Linked DNA regions of Homo sapiens: region 1 is linked to region 2. Evidence: fine-mapped QTL for protein levels in blood plasma. A gene starts in region 2. The other region holds a variant in brackets. All regions are shown on one strand. Distances are from middle to middle.

The links. A credible set is the group of variants that fine-mapping cannot tell apart. PIP is the chance, under the fine-mapping model, that this variant and not a neighbour inherited with it causes the effect. The UK Biobank Pharma Proteomics Project read protein levels with antibody pairs (Olink). The fine-mapping took linkage between variants from a reference panel, not from the people measured, so its PIPs are less certain.
Region 1: its variant is the best candidate, but not a certain one, in a credible set for the plasma level of the VWC2L protein (UK Biobank, PIP 0.68).

What each region holds. Positions count from the first base shown.
Region 1 is chr2:214,394,841-214,400,234 of GRCh38, reverse strand. The region is part of intron 15 of SPAG16 (sperm associated antigen 16); the gene reads right to left. Among named protein-coding and RNA genes, the nearest start is that of VWC2L, 14 kb to the left of the region's middle. The variant C/T (reference allele first, on the strand shown) is at 3,197.
Region 2 is chr2:214,408,109-214,413,502 of GRCh38, reverse strand. It overlaps VWC2L (von Willebrand factor C domain containing 2 like), which reads right to left and starts at 2,449. Exons shown (of 4, transcript NM_001080500.4): 1 at 1,717-2,449. It overlaps SPAG16 (sperm associated antigen 16), which reads right to left. Exons shown (of 16, transcript NM_024532.5): 16 at 3,002-3,363. The coding sequence ends at 3,188.

The DNA of each region.
Region 1 (5,394 bases), 13 kb after region 2:
GCATGTGAATATATCAAAAAAATTAAGTCTACCTTGCTAGGAACAGAACTTTTGGCCTGTGTGGAGTTTTAAAAATATTTCCCCCCTATTAGGAGAGCATGAATGATGATCTTGAACCAGGTGCTTTCCTACATGGGCTACCTTCTGAATATTACAGAAATCCCTTGTGAAATGCACCTAAAGTCCTAAAAATGTTCTAATTAATTATTGAATCTATTTAAAATATCAACAGCCACCTGCTTTCATTAAGAAATCCTTGTAGACCTATTTCCTAACTTGGTCTTCACCTATGCAGCTGATCAGTGTTGGGATAATATTTATTCAGGAACCCCATATATCTGGAGCTTTGCAAACATTTCAGAAAAGCTTTTGCTGATAACAGAGGAAATGCAAGTTCCAGTTCAGTTCTGAGGATTCGATAAGCCATCACAAAACATAATTCATAGCAAATCATAGACTATGATATATTCTTCTTTGTTGTTTAGAAATAGGCAAAGGAACCAAGGGCTTATATTTAATATCAAAAATTTAATTAAGAAATTAATCATTTTTGTCTTATTGTAAAGTAATAAAACCACCCTTAGTATTGCTCAGATTTTACTACTGAAACCATAACTACATTTTAAGACTCTAAAAGTCAGAGTTATAATATTTTGGGAGTTGTTCTCTTAATGTACATTGGTGTCAGAACTAACTTCATTATAAAGGAATCCTCTTTCTTGAATGTGGAGGTTTGTCTGTGGGGAAAGCCACTGTCAGATTCTGTTAGTTAATGTTCAGGTGGTGAATTGTTAATAATTACATCCTAATTTTAGAACTTCATCCTTTCCTACTTCAGGGCAACATTGTTAGGTAAAAGAGGCTAAGTGATAAATCAGCATCACTACACCATTAATAGTTATAGTAAAAAAAAGATATGCAAATATGTGATAAAAGAATTATAATTGAGATGGATACCCTCCTCACAAGAGCAAAAGAATGGCTGCAATATCAAATGCGAAGGTCTTGTATGAACTGGGAATGGCTAAATTAATTAGTTTAAATGTAGTATGTAGTATAATCGGATGATTAAAAAATATTAAACTCTCTGAAATCATAGATTAGCTCTGAATTTTATATATGTCACTATATATTACCTGAGTAAGCCCCACAGGCATAATACCTAATGGAGGTTTCCTTTTAAATAATTTGAAGTGCTTGATAATAAAAGATAGAACCACTAGCTTACAATTATTATCTCACTTTTTCCCAAATATTTCACATCTGTTTATTATGGAATCCTTACAATCAAATGCAAAGGCAACATTATTATTTTCATTTTACAGAGAAAGATATTGAATCATAGAGACATGAAAGACCTCCATTAAGATAACAGAGTTAGGATTTGAACAAGGATGCCAACCAAGTATGTCTATAAAATTTCCTCTATCCTGCAGCCTGAGGGGAAACAAAAGTAGTTATGCCAGAAAGTTAAGCTAATTTGGCTGCTACATGAACTGCTAAATAAATTTATATTAACTAATAATTCTGTGAAGGCATCTTTATGGAAATTTCAGCTAACATTCTATAATATTACATTCCGATGACCTGGCTTTATATCTCATAGAAAATTTAAAGCAACATGTGATTAGTTTGTTCTTTATTCAGCCTCTCTCCATCATACTTTCTCACTGTTAACCTCTTCATCTGCTAGCCCACTTGGATCAAATGGGCTTTTGCTGAAAGCTAGTAGACAATTTGAGATCAAGGGCACTGATGAGTACTTGGAGTTAAAGTAATGAGGCACGCATGATTTAGCTATATACAGGAGGCATAAAAATGGCAAAGTTGGAAGTACAATTATTAGAAAATATGGAGTGTGACTTGTCTGAATAAATGGAATATTAGGGTATTTTCAGTTGCAAGTGAAGGAAAGTCAACTCAATGTGGCAAAGGGAAAAATTTTTTTAAAGTTTAACAAATATATTTATCACACAGAAATTCAAATAAACTGACTCCAATAATGGCTGGATCAAGAGGTTGGAATGATGTTATTAGGATGCCTTCTTTCATTGTCTCTATATTCTGATTCCAGCAGTGTAAATCCATACTGAGGCAGACTCTGTCCACTTGGTAGTCTGGGTTCAGGCTCATGGCCTACCAAATTCAAATTCCATGGAAAGAGTACCTCTATTGCCTAGCAGTCTCATAAGGGGTAAAAATTTTCCCTTATTGGTTAGCTTGGATCATGTGGCTGGCAGGCGGAAGGGTGTGATTTACTAATTCACCAGGCCAGGATTAAGTGCTGACCAGAACAAGTGAGAGTGCATACGGAGAACTACCCAAATGAAGAACAAGATGCTGTCATTTTAGGAGGAATGACACTAGGCATTTAAAAAAATTCTACTTCAGATAGTCATTCCAGATGTGCAATTCAGAGCCAATTTTTGCATTAGAGAAGAAAACAAAGAAATAATAAGCCACATTGTAGGCCTTGAAAACTGTGCTTTACCTTCTATTGTCTTTAATTTGACTATCTATCTATCCTCTTGCCTCCTAAAAGACTCTTATGCAAATAAATTGCATCTAGTTTTATCAATAAATCAGCTCAAGTATTTTGTTAAATAGACTGCCAATGTTTGGGGTCCCTTGATCTACAGTGAGGCTATTAAATGCAAAAACTCCCAAGGATAAACTGCAGGGAAGGTAGGGGTAAAGTGGGAATTATAGTTGCGAAGGAATAGAAAAATTTGAACACCTATAAGACAAGCAATCTGCATTAGAAAATTTAAAAATATGGCCGGGCGCGGGGGCTCACGCCTGTAATCCCAGCACTTTGGGAGGCCGAGGCGGGCAGATCACGAGGTCCGGAGATTGAGACCATCCTGGCCAACGTGGCAAAACCCCGTCTCTACTAAAAATACAAAAATTAGCTGGGCATGGTGGCGCATGCCTGTATGTAGTCCCAGCTACTTGGGAGGCTGAGGCAGGAGAATCGCTTGAATCCAGGAGGCGGAGGTTGCAGTGAGCCGAGATTGCACCACTGCATTCCAGCCTGGCGACAGAGCGAGACTCCATCTCAAAAAAAAAAAAAAAAGAAAATTAAAAAATTTATATAAATTCAAGCTTTTTTGCATTAACTAGATACTATGATTATTAATATCTCAGTGGCATTCATACACTAGAGTATCTTGCCAAAATCAACAATTACAGCAAG[C/T]TGCACTGGATTTTATTATATTAAACAGAATAAAATTTTTATAAACTCTAAAATTAGAAACATACAGTATAGTTTTTATACTTTCCTAGTAAATCCCAGTATTTTTAGGAAAAAAGCTAAAGAAAAGTGCTTTTTTTAAGGGCTATTTATCAAAGATGATACATTTTATGTTTCAGTGGCAACTTTGCACATGTTCAAAAGATCTTGATGTAGATCTATAAAAAGTTCTGAATACTAAATATTTCAGTTATTTCTAAAGAAATCATTTTTAAAATAATATATAAGAACATAAACAACCAAATAGATAAAAATTATTTTGTGGAATCATTTTGAGAAACCATACTATTTTGCTGTTGTCAATATTTAAATTTAAAAATATATTCTTTGGGAATTCAGAATCTTAAGAACAAAACACATGAACATGTAAGAAGAAGGGATCAATGAAACAAAACTGTCAAAATATTAACAGTTGTCAAACCTGGGTAGTGGACAAATGGGGCTTATTAGATTATTTTCTTCACTTTTATGTATGCTTGGAAAATAAAAACAATAAAACATTAAAAAATATTAATTACAGATCACCATTATTACCATGTAGTCATTTCTTATACATAGAACTCAAAATTTTGAATTATCAGAGAAGCACAAAGTATTCTAAAACTAGGTATATATACAATGTGTCTAAGTACTTTTAGCAACTGCAGAGCAAAATAGTGAGTGATAAATGAAGATACTAAATATAATCATTAAAAAAACAAACTGGAGGACTTTATTAAAATAAACAACAAAAAGCCAAGCCACAGCCTGGTACAAAATATTTGCAAAAGACATACCTCATAAAGGACTATTATCCAAATTATACAAAGAACTCTTAAAACTCAAGAATAAGAAAACAACCTAATTCAAAAATGGGCCAACATTGTGGAAAGCAGTGTGATGAGTCGCAGAAGAACTTGAAGCAGAATTACTATTCAACCCAGCAATCCCATTATTGGGTATATACCCAAAAGAATATTCATCACTCTACCATAAAGACACATGCACACGTGTGTTCATTGCAGCACTATTCACAATAGCAAAGACACAGAATCAACATAAATCCCATCAACTGAAGACTGGTTAAAGAAAAATTGGTACATATATACCATGGAATACTATGCAGCCATAACAAAGAATGAGATTATGTCTTTGCAGCAACATGGATGGAGCTGGAGGCCATTATCTTAAGCAAACTAACACAGGAACAGAAAACCAAATACTGCATGTTCTCACTTATAAGTGAGAGCTAAATGATAAGAACACAAGGACACAAAAAGGAAAAAAAAATAGACACCAGGGCCTACTTGAGGGTGGAGGGTGGGAGGAGGAAGAGGATCAGAAAAAAATACCTATCGGGTACTATGCTTATTACCTGGGTGATGAACTATTTTGTACACCAAACCCCTGTCACATGCAGTTTACCTATATCACAAATCTGCACATTGAAACTAAAATAAAACTTACCATAAAAATATTTAAAAATGGGTCAAATACCTTAAACAACCTTACCAAAGAAGATAGACAGATGGTGAATAAGCATATGAAAAGAGGCTTAACATCATATGTCATCAGGGAAATGCAAATTAAAACAGCAGTAAGGTACCACATACACCAGAACATTGATAACACCAAATGCTGGTGAGAATGTGGAGCAATAGGAACATTCATTCCTTGCTGGTGAGGATGCAAAATGTTACAGCTACTTTGGAAGATGGTTTAGCAGTTTACTTACAAAAGTAAACATACTCTTGCCAATTATTTCACAATAGTGTTCCTTTGTATTTACCCAAAGAGGTGGAAACTTATGTCCACATAAAAACTTGTACAAGAATGTTTATAGAAGCTTCATTCATAATTGCCAAAAGTTGAAAGCAACCAAGATGTCCTTCAGTAAGTGAATTAATAAAGCGTGGTACATCCAGACAATGGAATATTCTTCAGTGATAAAAAGAAATGAGCTAACAAGCCATGAAAAGGCATGGAGGAAACATAAATGCATACTACTAAGTGAAAGAAGCCAATCGGCCAACGCTACATACTGTCTGATTTTTATTATGTGACATGTTGGATAAGGCAAAACTATGGAGATAATAAAAAGATCTGTGGCTGCCAGGAGTTGTGGGGAGGTAGGGATGAATAGGCAGAGCACAGAGGATTTT
Region 2 (5,394 bases):
AGTTGATAACAAAAACAACATAACTATTCCATAGTGATTAAGAGAAAGAAAATTTGAAATAATAAATAATACAAGAGAATTCCATGTGCTTAAAAGAGTTTGTTAAAAACAAATTTATTTGTATTATTGTCCACATTATTTTACATAGGAAGGAAGCTCCTAGTGGGCAGGAAAGATCTATCTATAAATTTACTTCACAGTAACTTGAATCTAGTATATATGTAATATTATTTAAATTAAAATTTGCAATATAATATAAATACAATTTATGAGATCTTGAAAACATAACTCTTGAAATGTCAAAAATATTTACATGTACAAAATCTGCACAAAGATGCCAGCATAAAATTCTTTATGGAAGTTGCTTAAAACTGTAATTAAGTGTTAACCATTCATAGAAAATATGCCTTATTAATTTTGTGACACTGACTCTTGTAAACTCCACTTAGTATTGGTGCTTGATGTGAAGTGTTGGGAGTGGGCTCTTATTTAAATATTTAGAATAACTAAATCACACAGAGGCTCTGGGGAGACTGTGACTTTAGGGAGTAATAAATAAGAAAAAGTATTGTCAAATAGCTCATTTTTTTATTTAAATGCTATTGGCTTCATGCCAATAACACTAAGATGGTATACAGGACATTTTCAGGTCAGTTATAAATGTTATACATTGGTTTATTTTCAGATTATATTAAGAGCAATGATAAACCATCTCTTTTCAGTCTAACATATACAGACGATAACAAGATAAAGATGACATTAGGAAACTTCATAAACTATTATATTTGCATTTTAAGGTAGATATACAAGTTCTAGTAATAGTAAAATGGAAGGTAGTATGCCCTCTTTCTGGAGAAAGCTGATATCAGAATTACTCTGATATCCTCTGATATTAGAATTCCCTTTGGGTAGGTAATAAAGCCGATGATTTCTTATAAAATATGTCAAAAATAATAAGTCATGACAGAACAAGAAAATGCAAACCTATAATTCTACTTGAGAATCTGGAAGCTCCCTTTGACAAAGCATTTTTTTCTCTCAAATTACTACAGAGATAACAAACATAACAGAAGCTTCTGAAAAAGCATAAATATAATTTACTAATTAAAGCAAGCATTTATACATCACATATTTAGAAAGTTTATCTTGGAGGAAAAGAAAGCTACTGTGCTTCCTTATAATATTCCAGCAATATCTGTCAATGCATGCAAGATAAGCCATATAAAATACACATATGATTCTGCTTCAAAGGGACATAGGCAGAAAATGATCTCTTTGTAAGCCACAGGTAGGCATTAATGTGTTAGGTTATGGTAAATGTAAACTTAGAGGTAAAAATAGGAATGTAATATCTACTTTATATAAACATTAAATATGTTTTTATTATATGAAATATATCTTAAAATCTGCATGGTAAAAAACAAGATTTTATTTTCAATATAACAAAGTTCTTAGGCTATTTTTTTTTTAAAAAAAAGCCTTCATAATTGAGCTGCCCTAGTACAATTTAAGATACTATTTAAGAGAAGAAACATGGGATAAATCAAATGTAATGTTTATCTGAAGATTTTTAAAAAGAAAGCAAACACTGCTAAACTGAGGATCACTTCCCAGCTTAATTTTCCCCCCCTCCCCATATTGCTACAGATGATTTAAAATGACTGCATCTATTTCTTTGAGAAAACAAACATAATTCATGTCATAAGATACACTTACCTAATCACTCTGGAGGTTAATGGTGGTGGTAGGGGTCACAGCCCAAAATGAACTAAAAGGTCAGGTATGTTTTAAGAAAGCAGTTCCTCTTTAATTACCCAAAGAATACATTTTTTAGGCATGAATTAAAGGCAATCCATTCTCTCTACCTCCCATTTCAAAACACAGTAAAGAAGCAGTCTCCCGCCCTTCCAGAAAGAAACACAGCAGACACATATAAGAAATTTGCTTTGGACCTGTCTTCAGAATTCAAAGCAAGAAGCAAAGCTGGTCCTGTAGAAATCCAGACCCCAGTAGCAGAATCATGTTGAACTTATTTTTAGCATTTTCTTAGATCCTTCTATGAAATTTCCCGGCTGATTACGCCTCCTCCACACATGAGTTCACTTACACAGTGTTTGCTACGGCAGTAGAGGTGATTTGGCTAGGCTCTGAGGATCACAAACAGCAACAGCATGCTGTAGCTTAAAGCCCACTCCGCTGGCAATACCATCACCATCGTCCACAGTGTGTTGCTTGAATCCCCTCTTACACACCGGAAAATACTAACTGTGGATGTGAAGGAAAGGAGCAACTTTAGCTGGGTTTCTGCATCAGTAAGAGCAGTTTGCAGATTGCTGATTTGGAGCTCATTCTGCCGGCAGCCGGGAATTCCTCAGCACCACGGACAGCGCCAACAACTGGCTTCTGAGCCCAGCTCTGTCGAAATCCCAGAGCTGCTTTAGACGAGGCTAGAGTGCTCTCCAAGCAGTCGCACTTTATACAGCGGATGCGCGCATTAGGAGGGGTAAAGACATTCTACGTGCGAGATATTTATTTGCATTGAAATTGCAATTAATTTTTTTTGTATAAAATTGTATACCTAACGCGTTCTTGGATGGGCTGCAGAGATGAAAGTTCCAGAAGAGGCTTGCATTTAGATTTAAGCCATCTGCAGTCCCCAATTATTATTAATAGATAAAGCATAATCATTGTCAAACAATCTGTGAAAACGTATGCTTGTCGATTCTATTTGACCCTTTGGTGGCAGAAAGACTTCCCTGGTGCTGCATGATTAAACTTCAGGTCTTCCTGCAGCTTGGATCTGATTTTTTTTTTTTTTTTTTAAAGTAGCCAGGTTTTCCTGCAGTTTGTTCTCTAACATTAAAAATCAATCTCCTGTAATTCATCTAGTCTGTCATTAGGCGTCATTGTAAAGCTGTTTCTTTCAAAACCCCTAGCAAAGATGCCGTGTCTCTAAATTCTTATCAAAATGAGAGAGAAAAAAGACCCTGACACAAATGGGTGAGCATAAAGTTATTTTTTTATTAGTAACAGTATGAGCACTAAAATATATGTCCAAAGCATGTTTTAAAGCAGACTGTAAATGTTACCTGCTGGCACATTTAACCAGTTCTTTGCTGGTTTGGGACTACAGGAGGCATTTTCAAGCCTTAAAGGGAATGCCCTCTGCAGCGGGATGTGCTGACGGTCAAGACCACGTTCGAACTGTGCCGTCAGAGCCTCCAGAAAAGAGAATCTCCCCGTCGTGAGAAAACACAACCGTGTGTGCCTCGTTTTCGTGGCCCATCAATTTGTGAATCTCCCCAGATTTAAGATCTAGCAAATGGATAACACCATTGCCACTTGCCTGAGCTAAAACTCGACCTGAGGGAGACAGAGAGGAGAGAGAGAGAGAATGAATCAAAGTTTTATTTCAAGTGTTCACAGTTTATAAGCAATGAAGCATTCTATTTTTTTCAATTATCATTCTGTGTTAGGGGTCAGTTATTAAATATGCAGTAGCTCCTGTAGGTATAAGAAATAAGTTGAGTCAAAATTAAGACACATCAATAATTAGGTTATAAAATTTTCTAATTGGGACATAGAGCCTAATGGTCTACCTCCTTTATATGCAGATTTCATCAAACATCCTACTATTCTTTTATATTTGTGATTAATAAAGCATTTCGAGGAGATGAGATTGAAAGCAACTATGCAAGGCAACTTTCTTTTTCAAATAAATTATATGTTAGAAAGTTTTAAAAGGCATAGCTTTCAAAATTTATGGAAAACATTTGTATTCTTCTTTAAACTTATTTATAATAATTATGCTAATCATTACTTACAACTCAATATACATTCCTGCTTTAAAAATTGTGATACTCATGAACTCAACAAATTTTTTTGAAGCTGAAGTGGAAATAAATACTTCCATTTCAAAATGACTTGAGAGTTTTTACTCTAGCTTAGAATTCAAATTTTGATAAATTAAATTTTTTTTACATAAGATGGCTAAATACAGCACAGGGTATTTGCATAATTTTTGTATCATATATTTTTTAGTGGCTCATTTCCTCAAAGTGAAAACAAATCAGGGATCCAATTTTAATTAATATTTTTATTAAGGAAGTCCAGTAACAAACTATCATGGGACTTGGAGTTAAGTAAAACAATAGGATATGTTTACATAAGCTCAGTACTTAGTGTAAATAAGTATGACATTAGTACTATCCATGGGATTATTTAATCATACTTAGAAGGCATATTATTGTTTCAGTAATAACATTTAAAATTTATTAAACTCTTTTAATGTGATAGATACTATATTTAGTGCTTGATATGGATAATTCCGTATGATCCTTATATTTAGTGCTTGATATGGATAATTCTGAATGATCGTTACAGTAATCTAATGATAAAGAAAATAGCATTAACTATTTAATATTTTAAATAGTTAGTACTAATAGTAGTAACTAATATTTTAAATAGTACTAACAGTATTAACTATTTAATATATTAGTTAGTATTAATAGTATTAACTATTTAATATTTTAAATAGTACTATTTATCTGTATTTTAAATAGTTAGTACTATTTAAAAATGCTTAAATATCTGTTATGTAAAAAATGCCTCCTCTATGTAGGTGAAGAAATAGAGGCTTGGAAAGGCGAAGTAACTTGCTCATAATGACACCCTAGGTATAGAAGGAGCTAGCATTTAATCACAGCACTTCGAATCCAGAGCCTGGGCTTTTAGCCATTGCTTTCCACAGCCAGCATAGCATTGTTATCAATGATGCCTTCTTGACAGATTTTAGGTAAGTGATATATTGTGAAAATAGCATTGGTCCATTTTATAATAAGAATTCTAGAATTATATCACCATAAAAGCTATAGTGAAATATTTAATCACAAATTTTACCCCCAAACATCATGAATACCTCTAAAACAGAGAAAAGTTATAAAAGTAAAGCTAACCATGATAAATACAACCTATTTGCAAACCTTTATAACTACTGGGCTTCTTCATCTAGAACAAAACCTGACACAGCAAAGATCCTTAGGATGGATTAGAGTGTCCAAAGCAGCAGATGTGAATATTTATTATAAACCATTTTCTACTAAGTCTTTGCTGACAGAGGCATTACATATGGATTTCACTTCCAACCTCACTCTATAGGCAATTGCTGTTTGTGACTTTCCCAAATAACTTTTTTTCTTGTAGTCTTTATACAACAGCTGAAAAGTGGGGTAAACACTGATTTCTATTTGTGAAACCAAACAAAACGAAACAGAACCAAGTCCATAAAGAAAAAGAAAAATATTTAGCTTTAAATCATTATTCACATCTCTAAAAATAATAATTGGAAATATTTATGAAGGCTCTGGTAATTTCTGAAAGTTTGTTAAATAAAAT